4 linked regions of the Homo sapiens genome follow. The protein of the gene in region 3 purifies or fractionates together with the protein of the main gene of each other region. This does not show direct contact. Each region holds a gene or a part of one and is shown on either strand. Other genes may lie near its edges.

The links.
Region 1: the proteins of FLCN (region 3) and PGK2 purify together in Homo sapiens (affinity purification with mass spectrometry; 2 studies listed by BioGRID and IntAct, with this or other methods). This does not show direct contact.
Region 2: the proteins of FLCN (region 3) and ZNF609 purify together in Homo sapiens (affinity purification with mass spectrometry; 2 studies listed by BioGRID and IntAct, with this or other methods). This does not show direct contact.
Region 4: the proteins of FLCN (region 3) and AGAP3 purify together in Homo sapiens (affinity purification with mass spectrometry; 2 studies listed by BioGRID and IntAct, with this or other methods). This does not show direct contact.

The regions. Positions count from the first base shown.
Region 1 is NC_000006.12:49,784,927-49,791,762, reverse strand, and holds PGK2 (phosphoglycerate kinase 2), read left to right. Parts: upstream 1-4,477; 5' UTR 4,478-4,575; coding exon 4,576-5,829; 3' UTR 5,830-6,103; downstream 6,104-6,836. UniProt on the Homo sapiens protein: Essential for sperm motility and male fertility. Not required for the completion of spermatogenesis.
Region 2 is NC_000015.10:64,456,182-64,463,577, reverse strand, and holds the start of ZNF609 (zinc finger protein 609), read right to left. Parts: upstream 3,001-7,396; 5' UTR 2,740-3,000; intron 2,555-2,739; exon of another isoform or gene 2,411-2,554; intron 1-2,410. UniProt on the Homo sapiens protein: Transcription factor, which activates RAG1, and possibly RAG2, transcription. Through the regulation of RAG1/2 expression, may regulate thymocyte maturation.
Region 3 is NC_000017.11:17,233,862-17,241,418, forward strand, and holds the start of FLCN (folliculin), read right to left. Parts: upstream 3,308-7,557; 5' UTR 3,051-3,307; intron 2,823-3,050; exon of another isoform or gene 2,615-2,822; intron 1-2,614. UniProt on the Homo sapiens protein: Multi-functional protein, involved in both the cellular response to amino acid availability and in the regulation of glycolysis.
Region 4 is NC_000007.14:151,089,426-151,096,732, reverse strand, and holds part of AGAP3 (arf-GAP with GTPase, ANK repeat and PH domain-containing protein 3), read right to left. Parts: exon of another isoform or gene 6,568-7,307; intron 1-6,567. UniProt on the Homo sapiens protein: GTPase-activating protein for the ADP ribosylation factor family. GTPase which may be involved in the degradation of expanded polyglutamine proteins through the ubiquitin-proteasome pathway.

The sequences.
Region 1 (6,836 bases), on a different chromosome or scaffold from region 3:
AAACTATCACAAGAACAAAAAACCAAATACCGCATATTCTCACTCATAGGTGGGAATTGAACAATGAGAACACATGAACACAGGAAGGGGAACATCACACTCTGGAGACTGTTGTGGGGTGGGGGCAGGGGGGAGGGATAGCATTGGGAGATATACCTAATGCTAGATGACGAGTTAGTGGGTGCAGTGCACCAGCATAGCATATGTATACATATGTAACTAACCTGCACATTGTGCACATGTACCCTAAAACTTAAAGTATAATAATAATAATAATAATAATAAAGAAAAAAAAGAAGAATAGATAAGTAGATGGAGGAACAAATGCAAAAAAGTATACTTTAAAAGAAATGCATTGGCTAATTCATACATAATGTTATCGTGTGAATTATTATGTTGTTTTCAAACTAATTCTGCACTGTGTAAAAAGTTATATATTAGGTTGACGCAAGAGTAGCGGTTTTCGCCATTGAAAGGGAGAGATAGCACCATACAGCCACCTTAGTCTACCTTTTACAATGATCCCAAAAACTCATGGAAACATTTTCAAATGCATAAATTGAAGTTTGCTGCTATTATTAATAGGGACATTTACAAATTCATAAACAATTTAAAAATTGTTTTTAAATTGTTAAAAGAAGGATTGGTGTGTTTCGAAATATTAAAAATTAGTGACTAAAATGACACAATATGTACATGAGAATATACATACCTATAGATTATTAGTCATTTCAGCACCCAGAACTCTGCATAACGTATGGAATATATATTTGCATATTTTACAATCATTGTCAATGGAAAGGTGAATTGAAGGTAAACTGCCCCAAATATTTCACAGGCTTCCTAATAGAAAGAATAATAGATTATATCCATAACATGTTTCAATTTTCAAAGAAAATGGATAACCTATAATGAAATCTTTCCATCATAGACTTTAATCAGTCACCACCATGAGCAAATACTAGTAGCTAAGTAAGCAGCCCTTAAAAGACCTGGAGAGAAACAGAGGACATTTGCATAAAGAAAACCTGGAAAACCTGTCCAAGAACAGGAGAACGTAGAGACATTGATACTGTGAACATAGATGAAAACTGGATTTAGTCAAGAAGACATTTCAGCCTCTATGTGGGATGATACGTGGTAACAGGATTTTAATTTTGAAAGACAAGGTCCTCAGAGCTTGATGCTGTTACATGAAGACAGATCTTGGGGAAGTGGTGACAAAATGCCCTTGTGGTTTAGCTCAGTGCAGAGCACACTGCAAATCTTCTTTACAGAAAGGTGCCAAAACAGAAGAGTATATTTTCCTTTTGGGTCTTTCAAATCTAGTATTTGTAAATCATGGTGAATAGTAATTTGAATACTCAGAATCTATTTATCACTACATTCAAACAGTCCATTAAGCTCCACCTCTAGTAGAGGAATGTGTCTACATACATTATTTGGAATTCCTCTGTAGAGAAGTTTTGTCCTTTCCCCCACCCCCACTTATTTATTTATAAGTCACTGCTTCTCTGCCCTCTTACGAACAGAGCTTGAAAATATTTGCGTTTATCAAAATCCTGTTTGAGTAGGCAGAATAACGGCCCACCAAAGATGTCCATGTCCTATTCCCCAGAACTTGTAAATACTGATGCTACATGACAAAAGAGACTTTGCAGATATAATTATATCACAGTATTTAATTAGGGAGTTTATCCTGTATTATCTAGTTTGGCCCAACTTAATCAAATGAGTCCTTAACAGCAGAGAATTTTCTCTGGATGAAAGTGGAAAACAGATGGAGTAGAAATGAAAATCAGAGAGATTCCAATTGTAAGAAGAATTCAATGCATCATTGCTGGCTCTCAGATACAGGAACCTACAAACCTGAGAGGGCCTTTAGGGGTTTATTAACAGCCAGCCAAAAGCAGGTAGCTCAGTCCTATAATTGCAAGGAACTGAATCCTGCCAAAAGCCTAAATGAGCTTAGAGGTAAATTCTTCCTAGAGCCTTGTAATGAAAACCCAGCCATCAAAACTTTATGAAATCCAGAGCAAGAAACCAGCAGAGCCAACCTGAATCTCTGACCTACAGAATTGTTTTTGAACACAAAATTGTGTTATTTCAAGTAGCTAAATTTGTGACAACTTGCTTCAGTAGCAAGAGAAAATTAACACATATTTATACACATATATCTGTAATTATTTTCCATATCAACCTATGTGTATATTGAACTTAATATGAGTTCATACCGATATCTCAGACTCTTAATCCAGCACCACAGAGTTCATTCTGCCCTTGCTTATTTGTAATTTATTTTCCTGACGGTGAGAAACTTTTAATTATCTTCCATTATTTGTTTATCTCTAATAACACAAATAGTTTAAGAATTATTCACCTATAAGCTTGTGATATTCAAACTTACCAACTAGAGTATTATATTTATGGACAGCTGTTTTTGTCTTTAGTTTTACAAACTGAAAACCTCTTTTGCAAAGTTACTTAAGTCATTTCCTTTTTTTGTCCACATCACCTGTAGTAAAATTTCCACATCACATGTAGTAAAATTTCCTATATATTACGATACAGTTAGGCTTATCTGTCAGAGGCTACATTATATAATACGATTCCCTAACACTCTGGATCATATTTTTTATTTGCATTCATTAAAGTTTACTCTCTACAACGTACGATTCTATGAATTTTGACAAGTGCATAGAATGTTGTATCCACCACTCCAGTACCTCATAGAAAAGTTTACCACACTAAAAATCCTCCTGTGTATCCCCATTATAGTTGACCACGCTCTCTTAACCTGTAGCAACCACTGATATGTTTTCCATCCCTATAGTTTTGCCTTTTATCAAATGTCATACAAATGGAATTATACAATAACTACAAAATTTTTTTGCCTGGCGTCTTTCAGTTAGTAAGGCACATTTAAGTTTTATCCAGGGCTTTTGTGTAAGTAAATAGCTTGTTTCTTTTCTTTTTTTAAAAAATAATATTCCATTGCATGGATATATCACAGTTTATTTATTTATTACTTGAAGAATATACAATTTTGGTAATTATTAATAAAACTGCTCTAAACGTTTGTTTACAGAAGTTTGAGAGAATACAGGTTTTTGATGTCCTTGGATGAATATCTAGAAATAGGATTGATGACTTGTATGGTAAGTCTATGCATATTTCTAAGAAATTGCCAAGCTGTTTCCCAAAATGTCTGTAGCATATTTCATTCCTGGGAGCAACAAATGAGAGTTTCTGTTACTATATATTTTAACACCATTTAAGTTTGCTTTTAAATGCTGTTGACTCGATGTTCAACATTGAGGAACCGATAAACTGTTTTTTAAAGTGGCTGCACCATTAGACATTCCTATCAGCAATAAATGAGGATTCCAATTTGTCCACTTCTTTCTCAACACTTGTTTTTATTTTTTATTTTAGCCATCTTAATAGGAGATGCCTCAAATATATTTCTGTCAAAGCCTTCATTTTACATATTTAGTTCACTCAACTTATGGAGTAGAATGAAAAAAACTGTAAAGCCAATTTTCATTACTAAACCAACTAGCCACATACATTTGCTTTCTCCAAAAATAGAATATCTTACTCACTTTCAATTCTAATATATGTTTTCATCTTCATGAAAACCATGCATTTATTTTTCAGCTCAATTTCTAAGTTGTACAGGTAGGAAAGCAAACAGAGAGGAGACAAAAAATAAGGAGCCTCATCATAACATTGTAGTCTGAAAGAAATGTCACCATTACTTTCAGCACTTGTTACTGATACTCTCTTTGCTATGATCTTATGGGATTCTCCTGCAGAAGTGACCAAACATTCTTTCATGGTAGTCTGAAAATGGAAGAAGCAAAGTAATGAAAATATGACAGCATTCCCACCACGTCCCAGAATAGATCTAAAGATGAAGACTAACAACAAGCCACATCCTCAAAGAAATATTTATCAAGACAAGGAAAAAACAGAACTATACTATCCTGACTTGAATAAGCAAGGTTTCATATGAAAATCATTATTTCAAATATTCCTTTTATTTGGCACTGCAGAGGTTTTTACATATCAAAATGGTTAAGATTTGACATGAATGAGGTGTATGTAGGTTTGCGGGGGTGGGGGTGGAGTTCTTTTTGTTTTGTTTTTAATAATAAAAGCAACTGTTAACCGAGCTGTGGGGTGGGGGCAAAAAGAGCCAGAAGGCGGCGCACACCTCAGGACTATTCTTGTTTTTTTAGAACCATTCTTATTCTGGGGTTTCTTCACCTACCCAAGTCTCGCCTGAAGCCAGGTACAGCTCTATTCCACTACATGACCCTCTGCCCAGGAAGTTGGAATCTTCACCTAGCAACACAGTTCAGATCGAGATTGACAGGACCATGAGCCAATCACAAAGCTAGATTTGCTTTCCAGTCTAACAGTGGCCGTTGTGCTGGAGACAGTGAGGAGAAGAAAGGGGCGGGACAAGGGCAAAGGCGTTAGAAGTCACCACCGACCCAGCCCCTCAACAGCAAGTTGGTTCTTCAGCATTAAGATCCAGGTGTCAGCCTATGTCTTTATATTGTCAAGATGTCTCTTTCTAAGAAGTTGACTTTAGACAAACTGGATGTTAGAGGGAAGCGAGTCATCATGAGAGTAGACTTCAATGTTCCCATGAAGAAGAACCAGATTACAAACAACCAGAGGATCAAGGCTTCCATCCCAAGCATCAAGTACTGCCTGGACAATGGAGCCAAGGCAGTAGTTCTTATGAGTCATCTAGGTCGGCCTGATGGTGTTCCCATGCCTGACAAATATTCCTTAGCACCTGTTGCTGTTGAGCTCAAATCCTTGCTGGGCAAGGATGTTCTGTTCCTGAAGGACTGTGTAGGCGCAGAAGTGGAGAAAGCCTGTGCCAACCCAGCTCCTGGTTCAGTCATCCTGCTGGAGAACCTGCGCTTTCATGTGGAGGAAGAAGGGAAGGGCCAAGATCCCTCTGGAAAGAAGATTAAAGCTGAGCCAGATAAAATAGAAGCCTTCCGAGCATCACTTTCCAAGCTAGGGGACGTCTATGTCAATGATGCTTTTGGCACTGCACACCGCGCTCATAGTTCCATGGTGGGAGTGAATCTGCCCCATAAAGCATCCGGATTCTTGATGAAGAAGGAACTAGATTACTTTGCTAAAGCCTTGGAAAACCCAGTGAGACCCTTTCTGGCTATACTTGGTGGAGCCAAAGTGGCAGACAAGATCCAACTTATCAAAAATATGCTGGACAAAGTCAATGAGATGATTATTGGTGGTGGAATGGCTTATACCTTCCTTAAGGTACTCAACAACATGGAGATTGGTGCTTCCCTGTTTGATGAAGAGGGAGCCAAGATCGTTAAAGATATCATGGCCAAAGCACAAAAGAATGGTGTAAGGATTACTTTTCCTGTTGATTTTGTTACTGGGGACAAGTTTGACGAGAACGCTCAGGTTGGAAAAGCCACTGTAGCATCTGGCATATCTCCTGGCTGGATGGGTTTGGACTGTGGTCCTGAGAGCAACAAGAATCATGCTCAAGTTGTGGCTCAAGCAAGGCTAATTGTTTGGAATGGGCCGTTAGGAGTATTTGAATGGGATGCCTTTGCTAAGGGAACCAAAGCCCTCATGGATGAAATTGTGAAAGCCACTTCCAAGGGCTGCATCACTGTTATAGGGGGTGGAGACACTGCTACTTGCTGTGCCAAATGGAACACTGAAGATAAAGTCAGCCATGTCAGCACTGGAGGCGGTGCCAGTCTAGAGCTTCTGGAAGGTAAAATCCTTCCTGGAGTAGAGGCCCTCAGCAACATGTAGTTAATATAGTGTTACTTCCTTCTGTTTTCTGTCCATGGCCCTTAAGTCAGCTTAATGCTTTTACATCTCGATGTGACTTTTGTTAAAATCTACTCCTAGATCAAGACCTATGTAATGGACAAGCAGCAGGCCATCAGGAACTCTTAATATCAGCACAGCAATTCATTTTAGTTTGGTCACGCATTTGCCTGTTCAAGTTCTCATTTGAACTTCACCATTGTGCTATCTAGGGAGGACATATTCTTAAGTTGCCTATTAAAGAAAGTGAGCTGAAGAAACTGAATCTTTTTATTTTAGTCCAACTTTGCTATTGTTTCATAATTTGAAACCCAAAAGATAAAACTTAATTTGTTGGGAAAGGGTGGAATGAAAGTTGACAAACAAACAATAAATATGCCCAAATAAACTGAGAAAAATAATTACATATAAAGAACTCATGGGTACCATTAAAGTTCTGCTAAGGGGAAATGTTATACTAAATAGGACCAAAAAAAAGAGAAATGAAAGACACTTATTAAACCCAAGGAATTTTTAAAAAGAAAAGAAATTAAACTCAAGGTAAGAATTATGTTTGTGTGCATATCAATGCACAAGATTACACACAAATGCCAGCTAGAAAAAGAGCTACAAGTTAAACCCAAGTTGTAAATAAGTAATTGTTTTATTTTTAAGGCAGGCATTATTTAATAAATAGATAATATAACTGGTAAGTTCTAAAACTTGGTTTTTGAGATAAATAAAATATATATACATAGCTGGTTTAATAATGGGAAAATAGAGATAAAAATTCTCTATTAGAAAACAGAAGATAAAATGATAAGAAATGTAGAAAAAACAAAAACACTTATTGGAAAATATTTTGCTTTATTCTGTAGACAGAGGTAGTTTAGGGCAATGCTATTAACAAGAATAGTAATTAAGAGTAAAAATGCAGATTAACCTTTCCCAGCTATAATGTCTTATGTCCCATAACCGCAGATCAATTGTGATATTCAATATCCTGAATA
Region 2 (7,396 bases), on a different chromosome or scaffold from region 3:
AAGTTCTTATTCAACACTATCCTATGGGAAATGATTGGCTATTGTGTACACAGCACATTATATACAATTCCCCACTCACAATGAGTTTTACTTCTAATCTCTTTTTAAAGAAAAGTTGTATTTAATGTCCTAAATGGAAACCTCTTTTCCAGGCCCCAAATTTTTTTTTTTTTTTTTTAAAGACAAGGTCCTGCTCTATCACCCAGGCTGGAGTACAGCGGTGCAATCACAGCTCACTGCAGCCTCAACCTCCTGGGCTCAACGAGATCTTTCTACCTCAGCCTCCCAAGAAGCTGGGACCACAGGCGTATGCCACTACACCCAGCTAACATTTTTTATATTTTTTGTTGAGATGGGGTTTTGCCATGTTGCCCAAGCTGGTCTCGAACTCCTGAACTCAAGCGATCTTCCCACCTCAGCCTCCTGAGTAGCTGGGACCACTGGCATGTGCCACTATGCCCAGCTAGCTGTATTTTTTTAAATTTTTGTAGAGATGAGTTCTCACTATGTTGCCCAGGCCACTCTCAAACTCCTAGGCTCAAGTGATCCTCCTGCCTCAGCCTCCCAAAGTGCTGGGATTACAGGTGTGAGCACCATGCCTGGTCCCAAATAATTTTTTACACAACTAATAGTACATAAATATTATTTGAGCACTTCTATCAGATATGTACAATAGGATTCCTTCTAGTTTGTTCTCATCCTTCTCTCACTAATAATCCCTAAGACCCATACATTTTTTCAAAAATGTTTATTTCTTTGGCAAATTTCTTAATACAGAGGCAGATATAGACTTTTGCACAATGAGCAACTCATGTCCTTTCATTAGAGTTAAAATAAATATTGAAAGGTTTGTTCCCACAGCCCTTGCCCAGATAGGCAAATTCTGTGGCTTTTTTGTTGTGCTATTATTATTGACCAGGAAGCCACCATTAAAAAGGTACTTGGTTCTTGACTTTTTTATTTTTTATTTTTAAAGAAACAGGGTCTTGCTTTGTTGCCCAGGCTGGTCTTAAACTCCTGGGCTCCAGCCATCCTCTGGCTTCATTCTCCCAAAGTGCCAAGATTACAAGCATGAGCCACCACACCTGGGCTTGACTCCCCATCTTAACACTGCACAGGTTTTTAGTGGTATTCGGAAACAAACAAAAATCACTGCATGAGTGTTCCATTCATATAAAAGAATTAAATATGATGATTCAACTAAGAGTAGAACCTTCCCTTGAAGTCTTCTTCCTTAAGGGTCTGAAACAAACATCGTAGTTGAGTCTACCAGACACTATTCCTTCACAACTTAGTACAGGCTAGCCAAAGAGGCAGGCACAACATGGCTGGCATCCCTTATTCTTCTGAAAAATGTGTGCCAATGAGCTCTGCATTGTTCCTCACTCAAAAAGAAGAGCCTTTCTCTCTGGCCTCCTCCAATGGCAAGCCCCAGTCTGGAAAAGGAAGAAAATGGCACTGAGGAGCCTGGGAGATGGAGCATATCCAAAGCTCTCAGACAAGACTTGAACCTATGACCTTCACTGTGTACACAATAGGCGGGTGAGAGGGACCGGTTTATCTCTGCTGCAGCAGTTCTCAGCCCTGGGGTAGCGCTCCCGATAAAATGACACGACTATTGTGTGTGGCAGCAGAACAGTCATCTCCTCACAACAGCCTAAACCAGCACTCCCTCCCCCAAGACAAAGCAGCAGGGGTGAAATTAACTCAAGGCTGCAGAGCAAAGCCTAATACAGAAAAGGGAGGCCTGTAGGGGCTTGGGGACTCTCCTCAACCCCTTAGGCTCTGGACACATGGCTGGAAACAGACAGGCTTTCTTCCCTATCTTTCTCACTCTCATTTAGGTAGGGAGCTGTTTCTTAGAGAATTTAATCATCCGTGATTTGTTCAGAAATATTCCCCCTGAAGGGCTCTGATCTCTCCACCCTGTGTGAGCCTAATTCCTCGAAGCTGAAATGACTGTTTGCTGCTGCCTGTTTCACAAACACACATTAATTGGTCAGATGTGTCTCCTCCTCCTCAACCCCAGAGGGAGGAAGGAGAATCTGAGCAAAGCACAGAGATGATCCAACCGTAATTACACATAAAGGGAAAAGAGGGCAGCATGGGTTTTCCAAACAGGATAGGGTCACAAACCCTCCCGGGGGTACAAGGATAGCAGTTGAGGTCCAGGCCCAGGGATCCCTCCATCTTGAAGAAAAGGACAGGAGTAAATGTGACCTGAAGACTGTTAGGGGCACACACCCACAACCTACTTACTGCAGGATCCCAGCCACCTTGCTCCCCACTCCTAGGTCACGCACACGTCCTGCTTCCGACCCTATGCTCTGAACAACCACCACCGCCCCCGCCCCCCCTCCCCCGCCAACTCCCTGACTGGCCCCAGTCGCCCCGAGCGCCCTCAACATACCCAGACTCGCCTCAGAAACTCTCTGGCCTGCTCCCATAACCTAGCCAGACCCTAATCCCCTCCCGGGCACCCCTACCCTCAGCCTGAACCGGCCGTGGCCACGCTTTGAACTTCACCCCGCGCCCCTCGACGCCCCCTCCCCCACCCACGCAACGACCCCCCCTACACACCTTCCCCTCGCTCCGCCCCAGCCCCCCCAACCCCCACTTCCTCCGTCAGGCAGCGCCGCCGCCCCCGGCCCCCATCAGATCCCCTCAGCCCCGCGCCCCATCGGTGCCGCCGCCTCTTTCCTCCCCCAGTCCCGGCTCCACACAAAGCTCCGGACTCACCGCGCGGCCGGTCCCGGGAGCCGCCACCTCCGCCCGCCCGGGGCCCCGGGCCGTAGAGCCGCCGCTGCTACGGGGCCCAGGCCGCCATCCGTTCCCGCGGCCCCTCCCCCCCACCCCACCCCGGCTCCGGCTCCGGCTCCGGCTCTGGCTCTCTGCCCCCTCCCCGCGCCTCTCCGCCCCGCCCGGCCGGTGCCGCTGTGTCCGGGGCCGCGGGTCCCTCAGCCGCCGCCACCGCCGCCGCCGCCGCGATCCGGGACAACCAGAGTCACCCGGAAGACGCGGACACTGGACTGCCAGGCCCTCGGATCCGGATTCCGCGCTTGTGTGGAGTCTGGAGCCGGTGAGCGCAGGGGAAACCCGGAACCTGGATGAAGGAGCGAAATCCTGGGTCTCGGAATGCGCGCTCACCCGGAGCCCAGATTAGGGAGTCTTAGCTCAGGGAATGCTGGAAAACCCGGCGTGCCGGTTAGAACCAAGATAAACTCAAAGAAACCTGGATTAGAGAGCTCGAACCTAACGCTGTCCCCTCGTGGGCAGTAGAACTCTCGCTGGATCAGACTTCCTCATAGAGAGGTCTCTGGGGGGAGTATTGCACCTTATAACACAGAAGACACCTCTTCTGTAGTTGTCCTTCAACCACAGAGAGGAAAGGGCCGTAGGGGATCTGAACATGGGCATCCACAAAGAACAGAAGAGCAATCACAGCTCCTGATGGTTTCATCCATTTTACCCCTTAGTTCAGCAAAGTACCAACCTCCTAATTTTTTATCCTTTGTTCTCCAGCTTTCTCTTTTAGGATTACCACTTGCTTTTCTCCCCAAAGCACCCATTTCTAATCCCTCTATATATCCCTTTTCCCCTCACCATCCTCTATCACTAAATCTTGTTGCCTTTTATTATCTAAAAACCTTATTCTGTCCTTCTCCAACCCACCATTCTAAGGATTGTAGCTTTTATTTTTCCTTATCTGCTATTCATCTCTGATTGCCCAGCATACTATCTAGTGCACAGTAGGCATTCAGTCCATGTTTAAGTGAGCCCTCCCACCCAGCTTTCACTTGTGAAACATCTATTCATGACGACCTCCTAAGACTTCCATCTCATTCCATAGCAAACAAATTTACCTTAATTCTCAAGGCCTCCCACATCCTAGCCCCTATTATGTCCTTCCTGTGTCCTTGACCATTTTATTTTGCTTTGCATTTATCTTACCTTTTTTCCCTTATCCTGGGGCATCCTTCAACAGTGCCACTCAAGATAGCATGTGACTTGGAGATAAAGTGAGGTCATAAAAAGGTGGGGGGAGGGGTTGATAGCTAAAGATAAAAGTAAACCTTTCTGGTCTAGGAAAAATAATCTCTCTTTGGTCCACCAATAGTCATGTTGTTAGACAGTACAGGGGCAGAACTGATCCCAGGTGACAGCGAACTTCCAATGTATACTAGACAAAGTTACAAGTGAGGATTCAGCTACTTAGCAGGTGGAGACAGAGAAGGGTTTAGTGTTTTAGACTTAGGCATGATTTAATTAAGGATTAAACATTCCAGTAGTCATCTCCCACTGAAGGAGCATGACTCTGCCATTGGAGAGAACTAGACTGCAAAAATAGGGAACAAAGGAAGGTAAACATTCCTGCAGTGAACTCCAAGTTTCAGCCAGAGAAAGTTCTCAAGCCTCGAAGAACCACTAAAAATTTTCAAGTGATCAGATGTCCCACATAGTAAACAAACCTTAAGTTTTGATTTACTGTTCCTCTAGACCAAGGGTTGGCAAACTGCATCTCACAGGTCAAATCAGGCTCACCACCTGTTTTAACATGTCCCATGAGCTAGAATGATTTTTACATTTTTAAACAGTTAAATAATCAAAATACTATTTCATGATGTGAAAATGATATGAAATTCAAATTTCAGGCCAGGTGCGGTGGCTCACGCCTGTAATCTCAGCACTTTGGGAGGCTGAGGCGGGCGGATCACGTGAGGTCGGGAATTCGAGACCAGGCTGACCAACATGGAGAAACCCCGTAAAAATACAAAAGTAGCCGGGCGTGGTGGTACATGCTTGTAATCCCAGCTACTTGAGAGGCTGAGGCAGGAGAATCGCTTGAACCCGGGAGGCGGAGGTTGCAATGAGCCGAAATCTTGCCACTGCACTCCAGCCTGGGCAACAAGAATGAAACTGTCTTAAAATACAAACAAAAAAATAGTTTTATTGGCTCTAGCCAAGCTCATTCATTTACATTATCATCTATAGATGCATTTTTACTACAACAGCAGAGTTGAACAGTTGAAACAAGGACTGCATGGCCTGTGTAAAGCCTAAAATATTTGCTATCTGACCCTTTACAGAAAGTTTGCCAACCCCTGCTCCAGACAAGCACTATCCAACAGAACTTTTTGCAGCGATGGAAATGTTCTATATCTGTGCTGTCCAATGCAGAAGTCGCTAGCCACATGTAGCTATTTGAGCACTTGAAATATGGTCAACAGTGACTGAATAACTGAATCCTTAATTTCATATAATTGAGATTTTCATAACCACAAGTGGCTAGTGGCTACCATAATAGACAGTACAGCTCTAGACTCTTAAATCTTCTGTACTGATGTTTTTTTTTCTCCTTATGCCACTATCTCACTCCCTTCCTGTGACATTCCTCTATGGATTCTCAGGAACTCCCCACCACCCCACTGTTCCACAGTCCCACTCACTATATACACATCCATTTTTCTGACCTCAAGCTAGGGTACACTTACTAGGTTGTCTCTCTGGACTCTCCATTGTCACAAATGAAGTCTGAAAATGGATCAGGTTATCAGTTGTCACCCTATGAATTAAGCCACATTATGTACATACACATAAATGGACATTTACACAAGTTCATTTGTGTCAGAGGATGGCACTGAGGCTGTATTCTTTCTTCTCTGCATGAGAGAAGTAGAAAAGCCCTCCACATGCTGGATGCCTTGTTGCTGCTGGTGCCTGTGGTATGGATCACCTCCCTCCGAACACATTCACAGAAGCTCAGAGCAGCAGATGTATGCTTGGCTACTTGAATCTCTAGGAAAAAAAATTCCTTCATCATTGGATTTTCTGTCCCTCCCCAGGCCTAACAAACTGAAGTTCACTGATTTCTTTAGTTTAATAGATGCTTGCTGTTTACTCGTCTTTTTGAGCTGACTTTTTGAGAATAACTCCCATGCTGTCTTGATCTTGGCTAGGTGCATTTTTAAAATTTACTAAATTAAATGAAATCCACATAAATGGGCTTTGAAGTCTAAATTTTTCACACTTACTTCCTAGGAAAAAATGAATTTATGTAAACTTCTGACTTAAAAGAGGGGATACCTAGTTTTCTTTTTCCAGATTAGCTATAGCAAGAAACAAACAAAAACCCTTACTCTATTCCAAACATCTAACTGCAAAGCCAAGGCTTCCTACATTTGATCTTAGCCAAAAGGCCGAGAAGCAATAAAGCCAAGGCTTCCTAAACCCCGTCAGAGAAAGTCTCCAGTTTCATATATCCCCCTACTCTGACTTTATATAAATGAGACTGAGTCCTGCCTGGAAAAACAAAAACAAAAACAAAAACAAAAAAGCTGAAACCTTTAGGCACTATACAAATTGACAGCAATTGAACCCAACTATTCAAAAGTGGGTACAGATATTTAGACTGCAACAAAAAACCAGCTCAGAAATGTGAAACTTCCTTTAGGCCACACTGTCCCAGAGTTACACAGTCAGAGCAAAGTGTTGTAAAGTCCTAAAAGGCTATTCCTGGGCAAGTTTGCACTCAGGCTGCTAAGAATTTCCACTAGGCTTTAAATTGTGCTATTCATCACTGAGCAACTGAAGGCCATCTACCCCCAAGTTTCTCCCACACTTCCTCCCTGGTGTCTCCACAAATAAAAGAGAGACCTTATACCACCACCACCATATGAACTAAAGACAGACTTTCACAGTCTAACCATGAAAAGGAGAAGTTTCCATGTTATTCTGCCATTTACTAATGAGGCTCCAGTTGCATATTTTGGATGCTGAGGTGGGTTCTTGTAAACTTGTGAAGTTCTTGTAAACTGTCTTATCTCAGCACACAAAATGGTTGCATAACCTGATCTGTCACAGCTCCTGATGTTTTTCTTTCGGCATGCACACAGTCTATCCAGGAGAAAAAAATCAATCCAGACACCTCTATGCTCAGGCTGTTGTTCAAATAAACTTTTTTCCTCCCTCCCTAGGCTCTTCACCTCCTGTCTTCTAGTTTTATTTTGGTATTAAGAGAGCCAGACAACTCCAGCATAGAATTCAAGGTGCTACTGCTTAGTAAACTATTAGCTGCATAGTGAACCCAGTATGGCTTCATTAATAGTAGGGTCTGCAGGAAGCCAGAAAGAGACTCCCCCGACATGCCCCCTGCCAAAGAAGTGGACATTAGCAGTCCTTTCCCCTTTCTCCAGAGGTTGAACAGAAAAAGAGAATACTACATGTTTGCATCACCGCAACAAGAATCGGGTGGGTTTTCCCTGGGAATCCAGAGTGATCAGGCCCTGCAAAACCAATGCCTAGAGCTATGCAACAAGCAGGGTTCACAGTTGAGTGAACATCAATGCATAATGAGTGGAGGCATTTCAATGCAAATAAACGCTGAATATGAAGGATT
Region 3 (7,557 bases):
TACAGGTGTCTGCCACCACACCTGGCTAATTTTTGTATTTTAGTAGAGACAGAGTTTCACCATGTTGGCCAGGCTGGTCTCGAACTCCCGACCTCAGGTGATCCACCTACCTCAGCCTCCCTAAGTGCTAGGATTACAGGCATGAGCCACTGCATCCAGCCAAGTCCCCATCTTTCTTACTCTTGGTTATAAGGGGGTGCTCTGGCAGCATCTACATCACACCAACTTACTTTTCAGGCCATAGGCCTGGCAGTTTCCTTCTCAAGCAGGAGAGGGAAACCAGAGGCAACGCTGACAAGCCACTTCCCAGCACCCAGAGCCAACATGGGCTACACTGTTTTGTTTTTTTTTGGTTTGTTTTTTTTTTTGCGGAAGGGTCTCATTCTGTTGCCCAGGCTGGAGTGCAGTGCAGCAATCTCGGATCACTGCCACCTCCGCCTCCCAGGTTCAAGCAATTCTCCTGCCTCAGCTTCCCGAGTAGCTGGAATTATGGCCGTGCGCCACCAGGACCAGCCAACTTTTGTATTTTTAGTAGAGATGGGGTTTCGCCATGTTAGCCAGGCTGGTCTTGAACTCCTGACCTCAGGTGATTCTCCCGCCTCCTCGGCCTCCCAAAGTGCTGGGATTACAGGCATAAGCCACCATGTCTGGCCAAAACATGGGCTACTCTTATTCGTTTTTCCTTTTAATGAAAAGCACTCGCTGGGTGCAGTGGCTTAAGCCTGTAATCCCAGCACTTTGGGAGGCCAAGGAGGGCAGATCACCTAAGGTCAGGAGTTTGTGACCAGCCAGGCTAACATGGTGAAACCCTGTCTCTACTAAAAATAGAAAAATTGCCGGGTGTGGTGGCTCATGCTTGTAATCCCAGCACTTTGGGAGGCCGAGGCAGGCGGACCACGAGGTCAGGAGTTCGAGACCAGCCTGGCCAACATATTGAAACCCCATCTCTACTAAAAATACAAAAATTAGGCTGGGTGCGGTGGCTCACGCCTGTAATCCCAGCACTTTGGGAGGCCGAGGTGGGCAGATCACGAGGTCAGGAGATTGAGACCATCCTGGCTAACACAGTGAAACCCCGTCTCTACTAAAAAATACAAAAAATTAGCTGGGCATGGTGGCGGGGGCCTGTAGCCCCAGCTACTGGGGAGGCCGAGGGAGGAGAATGGCGTGAACCCAGGAGGCACAGCTTGCAGTGAGCTGATCGCACCACTGCACTCCAGCCTGGGCCACAGAGCAAGACTCCATTTCAAAAAAAAAAAAAAAAAAAAAGCCAGGCATGGTGGTGGTGCATGCCTGTAATCCCAGCTACTGGGGAATCTGAGGCAGGAGAATTGCTTGAACCTGGGAGACGGAGGTTGCAGTGAGCTGAGATCGCACCATTGCACTCCAGCCTGGGCAATAAGAGTAAAACTCCATTTCAAAAAATACAAAATACGAAAATTAGCCAGGCCTGGTGGCACGTGCCTGTAGTGCCAGCTACTCAGGAGGCTGAGGCAGGAGAATCGTTTGAGCCTGGAAGCGGAGGTGGCAGTGAGCCGAGATCGCATCACTGCACTCCAGCCTGGGCGACAGAATGAGATTCTGTCTCCAAAAAAGAAAGAAAGAAAGAAAGAAAGCAAAAGCACTTGTCAGACGAGAGCTCTGACTCTGACTCCATGGATCATGTGCACCAGAGGCCCAGGCAGCCCCTGAAAGAGAGGGAGGTGCCCTACAGAGCACTTAGCTTTGCGGTCACCGGAGCCTGCCCTCACCAGCCAGGTGACACCAAGTGTTACTAGACCTCTCTGAATACCACCCAAAAGCTGAGAAACAGAGGCCTCTCAGAATTCGCATTACACATGGAATCAGAATTCTGGGCAGCGTGAGGTCATTCTTCACTCACTGTTCAATTCCAATCTCTACCAGGTGTTTGCTGAAGAAAACAAACTGGTTTGAGTGTGTCTCACGAGTCTGTTTCCAACAAGCTTTCCAGAACCCACATAGGAAGCCGAAATGCCCTGGCTGACAGTCTCTTCATCAACATATCCAAAGACAGTATTCAAATTCCCTGATGTGGTAGAGTGTCTGTTCATGTCCCCCTCCCACAATGGCTGAGTCCCAGACCTGGACAGTGACCTCACCACCACCCGTGGTGCGCCCTGGCCCTATTTCAACCCTACTTCCTATGGTGTTCTCATAGCACCGTGGAGAATTAAAGAGGCCACTAAGTAAGGGCACTCTAAATAAACAAAGCACTATAACGGATCTTAACCAGCAGTGGACACACAGCTTCTATAACTAGTCTCCCACTGGGGAGCCTCATTAAGTTAGCAGCTGGGATCCCAACAAGCCCAGGGTGAAAAGTTCTGCAGGGGATGACTGCCAGTTCAGATCCACTCTCACTGTGGCTCTATTTCCACCGTTTCCCTGGATTTCCATTCACAGAGCTCCCTGACATAGGACACTAGAAGGGCAAACGCAGTGTCACCTGCCACTATTACTCAATTACTTGATGACCACGGTGATAATCTGGCACTAAACTGGCTGTGGCCAAAGGCTAGAGAGCCAGAACCTACTTCCAGCAAGCTCCTCCTTGCCCTGTGTCCCCACTTGAAGAGACTGCTAGTGACCACACCTTGGACTTCAATCCACAAGCCAATCCATTCTTTCCAGGAGACAAGGACGCGACTGACAGTACTCTCAACTGGAGAGAAGCGCGGTCTTCCACCCTCCCTGGAGGACACGGTGCTACCCTATTAGCGCATCAGAGGACCCTCCTGAACGCCAAACTGGGAGAAGAGGATGACACACACCCTCTCCTCCAAACAGAGCGAAGACAAAACCTGGGAGAAGGGAAGGCAAACAGTCCCGTTTCATGGCAACATCAAATGAGATCACAGTCCTCATCCCCATAGACTTGGTTAATGGGCGTGCCCCCAACCTATCTTCAAATCTCAGGGTCTCGGCGACGCCCTGGACTCTGGCCCTAAACCCTCCCCCATTACTCGTCCACCTGGGACCAACGAAAACTCGGACATGCCCCTCCGCCAACCCCTCAGACCCCCGCCTACCTGCTCCCCAAATCGAGGCCCGCGGGACACCTGGACTCGGCAGCCGGGGTCCCGCTCTGGGTCCCAGCCCCGCCCCTGACTGCGCTGGGTAGGTGGTCGCTGCGGGACCCGGACCGGCGGAATCACACCCAGAGCCCCCAAGCCCACGGCAGGGATGTCACCCGGGGTGGCGAGGCTCTCAAGCCCGGGTTCAGGCTCTCAGGGGAGCTGGCAGAACCAGGAGCGACCACACTCACTCGCGGTCCCGCAGCCCCGCCGACACCCAGGCGCGTGACTCCCTGAGCCGTACCACCACCCAACACTGCGGTGGGGGTGCGGGAGCCGTCCGAGCGCGTCCTGCACCGCGAGGAGAGCCGGGCCTCCCTAGCTCTCGCAAGCCCAGGAACACAGTCCGAGTCCTACAACTCCGAGGTCTGACTGGGAAGCAGGGGCCGCTGCCCGACAATTACCCTTTTCCACCGCCCCTATTCCGGTGCCCCCCTCTGGGAAGTTCCGAATGGTTCAGACCGCACCAGCTGGGGATGCTGGGGGAAACCATTTCATTAAGCGCGGGAGTATGCTGAAACTTAAAAATCATTTTAAAAAGAGATTTGAGGGTAAATATAGCCAACCTAAGGCTTCCTGTCCACATAAAAGAGAAAAATAAAGAAAAAACGTTATAAGAGGTTGGCAGGCTTTTTTTTTTTGCTTCACCAATGGTTTTTATTAAATTGCTGATGGAACCCGTCCTCTCCCTACATTGAGAGTATGGAAGGTGCGGGAGACGGCCGTCACGTGACGCGGAGAAGGCGCGGCGCCCGTGGGAGGTTGGTTGCAGAACTCGGAACCGCTGTGCGCGCGCATGTGTGGGATTCGGTCTTCCTCCCTCAGTGGGTCTTTTTTAAAAATGTGAAAATCAGTTTTTGAATAATATTCTTTTTTTGAGACAGAGTTTCGCTTTCGCTCTTGTTGCCCAGGCTGGAGTCCAGTGGCGCGACCTCGCCTTACTGCAACCTCCGCTTCCCGGGTTCAAGCGATTCTCCTGCCTCAGCCTCCCGAGTAGCTGGGGACTACAGGCGTCCGCCACCACGCCTGGCTAATTTTTTGTATTTTTGCAGAGACGGGTTTTCACCCTTTTGGCCAGGCTGGTCTTGAACTCCTAACCTCAGGTGATCCACCAGCCTCGGCCTCCCAAAGTGCTGGGATTACAGGCGTGAGCCACCGCGCCCGGCCTGAATAATATTTTTTAAAACTAGAGCGCCCATTACTAAATTTAGCTACTTAGAAGTTAATTGTAAAGCCATTAGTTTGTGATGTAGTGTGGGTCCTTCCAGTGAAGACCGGAGAGAGATGGGAATCAGAGCCTGACCCGCCTGTGCGCGCTGCCCCCTGAGGTGTGGCTGCCCCCTGAGGTGTGGCCGCCCCGGAGCCTTCCGCCGCGGCCGAGGCTATGGTTGCCGCAGAGTCTCCAGAATGTGCTCACCAGGAATAGAATAGAAAAGTGGGTGGTTGTGTTTTTGAAATCAGAAGTCACTTATTTTTTTCTCTTTAAATTTCCATGTTCTGGTCGGGCGCGGTGGCTCACGCCTATAATATCCCAACACTTTGGGAGGCCGAGGTGGGCGGATTACGAGGTAAAGAGATGGAGACCATCCTGGCCAACAGGTGAAACCCCCTCTCTACTAAGAATACAAAAAAAATTAGCTGGGCGTGGTGGCACACGCCTGTAGTCCCAGCTACTCTGGTGGCTGAGGCAGGAGAATTGCTTAAACCCGGGAGGCAGAGGTTGCAGTGAGCTGAGATCGTGCCACTGCACTCCAGCCTGGCACAGAGCGAGACTCCATCTAAAAAAAAAAAAAAAAATCCATGGTCTGTTGAAAACGGGACACGAGAAAAGAACGAAAGTGCAGCTTGTGTTTTCTGCCGTCTTATAGTGGCTTGGTAAAGATTAAGGAATATGGGGTGGCGTTACGAGGTTAGGCATTGCCTTTATGTGTTTAATTATTCTTATCAAGCGAATTCCTCTTGCTGTTGGACAGCGCAAACTTAATTTCTGAGGAGGTAGTAAGTTACAGGGTGATTTTATTTTATTTTATTTTAGAGACGGAGTCTTGCTATGTCTCCCAGGCTGGAGTGCAGTGGCGCGATCTCGGCTCACTGCTACCTCCACCTCCCGGGTTCAAGTTCTTGAAACTAATGTTTGTTAATGAGATTTTTAAGTCAAGAACAAGGTTTTTTTCACCTTGTAACTTTAATTCCAGGAATTACCTTTTTCAGTTTGTTAGTGGAGTTCACCACCTTGCTCAGATTATCCTTATTTCCATGGTGATAGGCTAATGGCGGAAGGTTATTCAACTAGTGTATTTTCAGTAAAAGTCAATGTGCATTTACCACACCTGGGCTCAATTTAGGCCATTAACATCTTTCCCAACACCACTGGCTTCAGCCACCTACCTCTTTTGGAGGTACTTTCTTAAATAAACCTATAAATCTTTAAAAAAAAAATTAACAACTGCCAAATCTTTGCCTCAGTGAATTGTACCAAAGGTTATTTAAATTGGGCTCTCATGGGGTATAAAAACTTTCAAGGTCATGCAACAAAAGGGACATCTTAGAAGTCGGAAAATGTGCCCATTCTCATGGGAAAGATAATTGAAACTCAGCAGTAATGTTCAGAAAGCACAGATACCAATAATGTTCAACAATTCACAACCAAATGAAATGCAATGCTAATCTCAAAGCTTCTATCCCATAATGGAAATTGTATGAAATGATTCCAGAAGCTCTGGATATGTTACTGCCTGGCATGCATACAATCCAGAATGTGTTTTTTCCACCACTGAAACAGGCTCAATCAGAATTAAGATTTTTTTCCACCACTGAAATAGGCTCAATCAGAATTAAGGTTTTTTGATGCTTTTCTGCCTTCTTACTACTGCTAAACCAAGAGGCTTCATTATAGCTGAGTATCCAAACTGATCAATCACTTCCAAGGCATCAGTTGCCAGGACCATAGAGCCAAGTGGCAGGGAAAAGTCACATCTTATTCAGAAATTTGTTTTAGAGTTTTTTATATGTACCCTTAGCCACAGGGGCTCTGATGTAGCTGTAGGATACAGCTGGGCTTTATCTTTCAGTCAAACCACATGTCAATGACTCTTAGTTTCCAGTTTCAGGAAGAAGGGGTGTATTTCATTTGTAAGCATTTCAATTTAATATTTTTAATCACATCTCATATTTTCAAGTTACTATAATTGATTCCCTGTTATAAAAATAATGATCTAAGTTTTTGTTTCTTCCAGCAACTGAGAAAACATTCCGTTTTTAGATGTTTTGAACAGTTTAGGAGTCTGGCCAGCTGCTGAAAGGCAGCAAGCAATGAGTAACATTTCAGAAGGTGAGATAAATGCACAATTTCTTTTTTTTTTTTTTTTGAGACGGAGTCTCACTCTGTCGCTAGGTTGGAGTACAGTGGCGTGATCTTCGCTCACTGCAACCTCCCCCTCCCGGGTTCAAGCACTTCTCCTGCCTCAGCCTCCCGAGTAACTGGGACTACAGGCGCATGCCACCAGGCTCAGCTAATTTTTGTATTTTTAGTAGAGACGGGTTTCACCATGTTGGTCAGGCTGGTCTCGAACTGCTGACCTTGTGATCTGCCCTCCCAAAGTGCTGGGATAACAGGCGTGAGCCACTGCACCCAGCCCATGCACAATTTCTTTCTTTCTCTTTTTTTTTTTTTTTTTCTTTTTTGAGACGGAGTCTTGCTCTGTTGCCCAGGCTGGAGTGCAGTGGCGCCATGTCCGCTCACTGAAAGCTCTGCCCCCAGGGTTCATGCCATTCTCCTGCCTCAGTCTCCTGAGTAGCTGGGACTACAGGCGTCTGCCACCAGGCCCAGCTAATTTTTTGTATCTTTAGTAGAGACGGGGTTTCACTGTGTTAGCCAGGATGCTCTCGATCTGCCTGCCTCGGCCTCCCAAAGTGCTGGGATTACAGGCGTGAGCCACTGCGCCCAGCCTAGCCCATGCACAGTTTCTAAGTTCAGGTTTTAGGTAATTAGACAATCAACTCTGCACATAAGGCATCCAGTCAGTTGCGAGGTATGAGTTATTAGTGGTTCAATAAAGGCCATTAGGATTAATTTAATATTTCTTACCATAGCAATTTCTGTAAGCTTTTAAAAATTAACCTCTCTCCACTAATTAGAATTCATCTGCTATGCCTTTTGTGTTTTAATCTACTACTAGGTGCCTATTAAATACCATGTGTTGACATTTTCGTCTAACAATCAACTATAGAGCCAGCCTATGGATTCAGACTTATTAAATGCTTTTTGCAATTAAAGTTCTCTGATTTCAGCCTTTGATGTTAGGAAAGGATACAGATAGGATTTTCTTTGTTCACTATCATTAAGTAATTCAGTTACTTAAAAAGATAGCCATCACATTTTCTTATTCACAGATACCTGATTTACCTAGTCATTTATTTTCTCTGGCCCCTTTGCAACTGCTCAGACTTAGGTCCAAATAAC
Region 4 (7,307 bases), on a different chromosome or scaffold from region 3:
TAGGAGGCTGAGGCGGGTGGATCACGAGGTCAGGAGATCGAGACTACCTTGGCTAACGCGGTGAAACCTCGTCTCTACTAAAAATACAAAAAATAAGCCGGGCGTGGTGGTGGGCACCTGTAGTCCCAGCTACTCGGGAGGCTGTGGCAGGAGAATGGCGTGAACCTGGGAGGCAGAGGTTGCAGTGAGCCGAGATCGCGCCACTGCACTCCAGCCTGGGCGACAGAGCGAGACTCCACCTCAAAAAAAAAAAAAGAAAAGAAAATTTAAGTTCACACGTGTGACTCGCCCATGTCTACTGCACAGTGCTGAATCAGAGAAAAAAACAACAGGCAAAACATCAAAGATGACCCTGGGTGTTCACGGGAACGTGCAGGCCCTGTGACAGCCCTGCCCCCTCAGGTCCCTTCCCCTGGGCCTGGATGAGCTAAACCAACGTACCCCACACTCTGCCACCTGGGCTCTCAGGCTCGGGTCCGGAAATGGTCATTCCTGTGATCTCATGCAGCCCTCACCTCACGCATCCCCACGCAGGCGGTGATGACAGCTGAGCCTCTGAGACAAGTAATGAGACAGTCGCCACCCAGCACGCACATCCTCAGGGCAGCTGCTGCTCTAAAAGCTCTGCAGACGTTAACTGATTTGCTTCTCACGCCCACACCATGAAACGGATGCCCATGTTTTACCAATGGCGAAGCTAAGACACAGAGGGGTTAAGGAACTCACCCGAGGTCACACAGCTCCCAAGTGGTAGGTCTGGGACTCAAATCTAGGCAGCCTGGCTCCAGAGCCCAGGTGCTTAACCTCTATTCTATTCAGGCCCTGAGAGAAGAAATGAAGGCCAGGCTTCATTCCACATCACCCAATATAGAACCATCCAGAACAATCTAGAAGTAATAATGGGGTGGCAGGGGGGCAGGGGGTGCTGCCTCAGAGTGATGGAAAGCCTCCAAAACGTCCCAACTCTTCTCAAACAAAGGCTCTGGGGCTTGCCTTTCTGGTATCTTTTTTTTTTTTTTTTTTTTTTTTTTGTACAACTGTGATTGGACAAGACATTTAGAGCATCTTTAACCAAAACCTCCTCCAGGCACAGAAGTGCCATCCACCAGTGCCTGGAAAAACCCAGGCCCAGGAAGGGGTGGGGATCCCAGCAGAAGCAGAGCAGAGATCCCTGGAGGGGTCTAGACTTTTCGGTCCTCCCTCTGCCCCTGTGACAGGCTTTGATCCCACTCCAGGCGCTGGGGTTTCAGGTTTGCAAGCCATCAAAACACCAAACTGAAAAGGCTAAAGGGAAGCTGCTGTAGGCAGGCACCCCTACGGCGGTAAGGAGGGGTTCTGGCAGAAAAGGAACAGGCACAAAGCCCTAAGGTACAGCCATCTGGGGCTACGGTATGGAGCGGGCACAGCCAGCCTCAGCCTCCTGGGTGGCCCAGAGGATGGCACTGTCTGCTCAGCTCAGGGCACATTGAGGCCGAAGTGCTGACTATGGGAACTCAGACAGTGCCTGACTTGCAGCAAACAGAGAAATGTACGTTGTAGAAAAACCTACATTAAAAGAGATTAAAACGGTCTTCAGCTCAATAAGAAAAAGTAACATTGGGAGGTGGAGGCAGGAGCATCACTTGAGGCCAAGAGTTTGAGACCAGCCTGGGCAACACAGACCCTGACTCTACAAGACAATTTTAAAAATTATTAGCCAGATGTGGTGACACATGCCTGAGTCCCAGCTACTCAAGAGGCTGAGGTGGGAGGATTGCTTGAGCTTAGGAATTTGAAGTTGCAGTGAGCTACGATCGCGTCACTACACTCCAGTCTGGGTGACAGACCAATATTCTGAGGAAGGAAGGAAGGAAGGAAGGGAGGAAGGGAGGAAGGGAGGGACAGAGGGAAGGAGGGAAGGGAGGGAGGAAGGGAGGGGAGGCCAGGCATGGTGGCTCACACCTGAAATGCCAGCACTTTGGGAGGTGAGACGGGAAGATCACTCGAGGCCAGGAGTTTACAGCCAGCCTGGGCAACATAGTGAGACCCCATTTTTACAAAAAGAAAAAAGAAAAAGAGGAACAAACCAAAAGTAAAATGAATAAAGGATATGTACAGAATGAACAAAATGCAAATGACCTCTCAAAAATGTTTTAATATCAACTCTCACTAATAGTCAAAGTGAATCCAATAATGAAATAGCTAGTGATCAACTAGTAATCAAAGTCAAACAAAGTAAAACAACGAGAGTCATTTAGTCTTTTTTTTTTTTTTCTTACGTATCAGATGAAGAAGGGGTGCCGGGGAAGTGGGGCAGGGAACTCCAGGCTGTCTCTATGCCTGAAAATCAAATGGCCTTTCTGGAGGGCAGGGTGCCAGAGTGCCGCAAACGTCCTAAAAATGTGCCGACCCCAGAGTCTGACCATTTTCTTCTGAAAATTTGTCCAAAAGCAATAACGAGACAAGCGTACAAGGCGGCACGTAATAAACAGCATTCCCTTACACAGGATACCCTGCCGCCTTTCAGAATAATGCCTGATATTTCACCTGTGCTTATGACACGCTAGGCACTGTTCTAAGCACACCGCGTTGGGGGTCTCAATCCTCAGCACTACCAAGCGGCAGAGCTTTGTTATGACCCACCTCAGGTAAGGAAACAGAGGTACAGAAAATCTCACCTCTCCCCACAGGATCTCTTCTGATTCTCAGCTCCTGGAGGGCTCCAAGGGGGGCGCATCTCAAAGTGCTGCATGACAGAGGCAGCCTCAGAACAGATCTCAGGGACCCCAGCTCAGGTGCTCACTTGACAGACAAGACCCCCGGCCAGGGAGCCAAGCCTGGCCTGTTCCAGATACTCACGCCAGGGTCACCCCTAGCTGCATAGACAACCAGAATGTGACTCTCAGAAGACGCACCCAGAGCAGACTTGCCCCAGCTCTCACAGCCAGTTAGTGGCAGAGCAGGGACGGGAACCCAGGTATCCTGACTCCCAGCCTAGGAGCTGCCAAATACGCAAATGAACACGGGAGCCTCCTTTTGTGAATCTCCGGCTCCCCTTCTCCCAGCAAAGCATTTTCCACAACAATCCCACGTTTGCTGCGAAAGCCTAGTAACAGCAAATCCAGCAAAGAGTCGTTAATAGAAAAAAGACCAGAAGGATGCACATCCGACTGCTCACCACAGATCCTCCCAGGAGAGGGGAGGCCGGGCAGCCACCTTCCTACTTCTACATTTGAATGGCTTGTAACAAGCATGTATTTACTTTCATCCCTTAAACACATTAAAATGAAATTTAAATTAAATACATATTTGGGCACGGACGTGGTGGCTCATGCCTGTAATCCCAGCACCTTGGGAGGCCGAGGTGGAAAAATTGCTTGAGTCCAGGAGTTCAAGACCAGGCCAAACAACATAGCAAGACCCCATCTCTACAAAGAATGAAAAAATTAGCTGGGTGTGCTGGTGCATATTTGCAGTCTCTGCTACCTGGGAGACTGAGGTGGAAGATCGCTTGAGCCCAAGATTTTGAGGCTACAGTGAGCTAGGACTGCACCACTGCACTGCAGCCTGGACAACAGAGGGAGACCCTGTCTCCAAAAATATATATACACACACATATACATACATATAATACATACATACATATATATGTTTCTTGAGCAAGCATCTGTCTATTGTACGCTACATCCGTGCTACCCATGGGAGACAGACGCCTCAGAGAGCCACCATTCAATTCAGTTGGGGATTGAAGACGTCCAGAAGAAAATTATAGTGGGGAGCAGAAGAAAATTATAGTAGGGAGCAGGAGGCCTAATTCACCCTAAAATTATATTCTAAAGGCTTCCAAGAGTTAAACTCTGGTCCATTTGACTCCCATAAAGTTTCCTGTAGAAGCAGCTTTTAAGGGCTGATGTGGTGTGGCCAACAACACTTATTCAGCCCATACATGCAAGGCAAACCACAGAGACCTGGAGTTGGAGAACCAGAGAAAATCCCTGCTTCCTCCCCTCACTGCGTGGCTTCAGGAAAGTTACTTAATCTAGGTCCTAGGCTGTCTCACTTGTGAAATGGAAATACTTGCAAATCCAAAAAAGACCCTCCTCTGGGAAAATAAACTATGAGATGCAAAGTGTTGCAAAGCCTCATTCCAACCCCCAGCAGTGAGCCTGGCAGAGGGAAGAACATTCACGGGTGGAACATGCACCACCCAATCTCTGCGCCCTCAAAGCACGTGGCTGGGCTCACCCCCCTTCCCTACCTCAACTCTGCGCTCCAAAATAAGCTCCCTTACCACTTGGCCTGCAATGGTTTAAGTCAGCTAGGGGTCAGGAGGAAAGCATCAGATTAAACTAATTTCCAGTTACCTGCATATTAAAAAGAAACTAACACAACAGGTGGATGTTTAGGCAATGCCACACACGGACATGGGAGTTCTTACGGGGGTGTCTGTCTCCCCCCAGCCTTGGCTCTCCCAGGCTACACCTGCTTTCCAAGAAGCGTACCTCGTTCCCTCCACTTCTGGGCCAGGGACGCACTGACAGCTGGTAGGGGGCTCACAAGCACAAACGAGCGGTGTGGATGCTGGCGTGGCTCAAGCCTTCTCAAAGGCTTAAACGCTTGTGACGCCCATCTTTCGCAGAATGACGCACCAACTCCTGCGGTTTCTAGGAACACGGCAGGGTGGAAATAAATACTGGAGAAAGCATGAAATACTCCTTCACCAGGGTCCTGCCCACCTCACCCACCCATCTCCTACAACTCAACACCCGAGCTGCAGAGTCCAACTTGCCGTTCCGAGAGCCACACTATGTTCTCCTGCCTCCGTTATCTTCATCATCCTGTTTCCTCTATGTGGGAATCCTCCGGACCCCCAGGCCTGGCACACGTTTGAGGAAAGAAATAAATGATACAGGAAGATTGCCAGGTGGCATCATAGGGACAAGGACTGCTTCATCTGTGGGGTACCACTGCTGGGGAGAGCCAGAGCTGAGACCCTGGATGGAGCAGGGTACCAGGGGTTCCCACGAGGCCATGCAGCCTGAGATCAGGCTGGACAGGTCTTCCTGTTCTGGCTTCTGACCCGGAAGAAAGAAGTCGTGATGAGGTTTCCCAAGTCTCTGACCTTTGCCCTGCCCTGGTCTTCTGAAAATCTAGGTCTCCTTCTGGACTCCCAGTGCCTCTCTGGCACCTCCTACAGGCTGAGTCGTTCTCTCCAGGTGCACCAAGCCCAGACCTTCTGGCCCCTTCGCTCCCTGTCTCTCCTTTGATTGTCTGCTTTTCACTGTGCTAGATGCAACTGGGCCGCACAGTAGGAGCTAAATGAATGTATCTGGAACAAATGAAGCTTTCCCTGGCTACTAGCACCCACATGGTTATGCTCTTTTTCAGAATTGCTAGAACTCTTGCGAGCAAAGTCCTGCATAAGCAACCAGGCCCCCATGAGACACTCAGTCCCTAAACCAACGAATTGCCAGAGGGGCCTGGGCTGGCTCCAGATGCATGTCCCCGGCACCCATCCCAGACCCCCCCAGTCCTCATCTTTGAAGGGAACCTCAGCAGTGTGTGGTGCAGCAGGGCCCACGGCGGAATGCAGGGCCCGGCCAGGGAGTGCCCACCCAGGAACAGTAAGGAAAGCTCAAGAGAGCACCCTGGCACAAACATGGGGACCATCATGCCAGTCCTCCAGGATCAAGTCACAGGACGAACAGAAACAGACACAAACACTAAAACCCCAGGTGTGCCTAAGGGCTGAGGGCTGTGGGATGCCAGGGCGTATGCCGTTTTGTTTTGTTTTGTTTTTGTTTTTTTTTGAGACGGAGTCTTGCTCTGTTGCCCAGGCTGGAGTGCAGTGGTGCGATCTCAGCTCACTGCAAGCTCTGCCTCCCAGATTCACACCATTCTCCTGCCTCAGCCTCCCGAGTAGCTGGGACTACAGGTGCCCGCCACCACGCCCGGCTAATTTTTCGTATTTTTAGTAGAGACGGGGGTTTCACCATGTTAACCAGGATGGTCTCGATCTCCTGACCTCGTGATCCGCCCGCCTTGGTCTCCCAAAATGTTGGGATTACAGGCGTGAGCCACTGTACCCGGCCACATGCACCGTCTTACTCTCCCTCTGAGCTGCCACCCAACTGCAGTCACAGCTGTGGCCCCTTCTCTGTCTAGCTGAGGCTTGACCCAAACAAGAAACCCCCACATCTCTTTACCTTAGTCCCTTTAGGATGTCACCAAGCCCACAGCCCAGGGCAGGCAATCTGTGAACTGAATGAAAGTGAGTGGGGTAAGGGTGACAGTGAGAACGCTCTGCTGGCCAGGCCAGGCCGGCTGGAATGCTCGAAGTAACTGTTTAAAAAAAAAAAAAAAAAAAAAAAAAGCCCTAGTGGGAAAACGATGGAGAAACCTGAGTAAGTCACCCAGCTGACAAAGCCCAGCTCCGGCACACATAATAGTAGCCATATGGCACACACACCTAATAGTCAGGTCCACTTCCACTTCCAGGCGGGAGCCCCCCCCCCCCATCTGGGAACTGCCAGCAGGGATCCCAGGCCCTCCCCAAGCCCCTGCTCCTCCCCTGTGCCGGGCCCTCACCTGCACACAACGACTGGGACCAGCAGGTCCTGGAAAGATCCCGGGCTCCTTTGGGGCTCCTGGCTAGCTTGGTACAACATCCTGCGCTCCACGTGCCCAGTGTCCCCATTTGGACTGAGGCCCTCGTTCTCCTGCATCCCTCTTTCTAGGACTCAGCCAGGAAACCCAAGCTGTCAGGGAGCGCTCACTGCAGGTGAGTGCCAAGCCGGAAGCGGGCTCCTGTTGAAGGCCTATACTCTCCCTGGCTGTATCCGCTTGGCTCCCTCCCTTCTCTGAGCCTCAGTTTCCCCACTAGTGAGGTGAAGGTGGCTCAGAGGCTCTGCACATAGTGAGCCCTCCAGCTCTCCCTCCCAGCTGAAGGCTGTACTTCTTCCACTCCCTAAGGCCAAGTAATGGGCAGGTTTTCTCTTTCCTTGGCCTCTGGTGGGAAAGGAACTTTTCAAAATGGTCTCCCTCTCCTCAAATCCTGTCCTGAAACACAGGAAAGCCAAACATCCCCTGCTTCCTCCTGTCCTGGACACGGGGTCAGAAGTGACTGTGAGTGGCAGAGACTACAGGAGGCCCAAGTGCCCACTGCACTTCCTCAGAGCCAGATGGATCCTGACCGCAGGTCCCACGTCACCTTCAGAGCTGGGACAAACAAACCCTTCACCGAAGTCTAAACAGAGTGAGGGAGGCTTTGTTATACACTCGGAACTGCCGCCCCTTTCCACCGAGAGGCTTAGCCCCAGGAAACACAG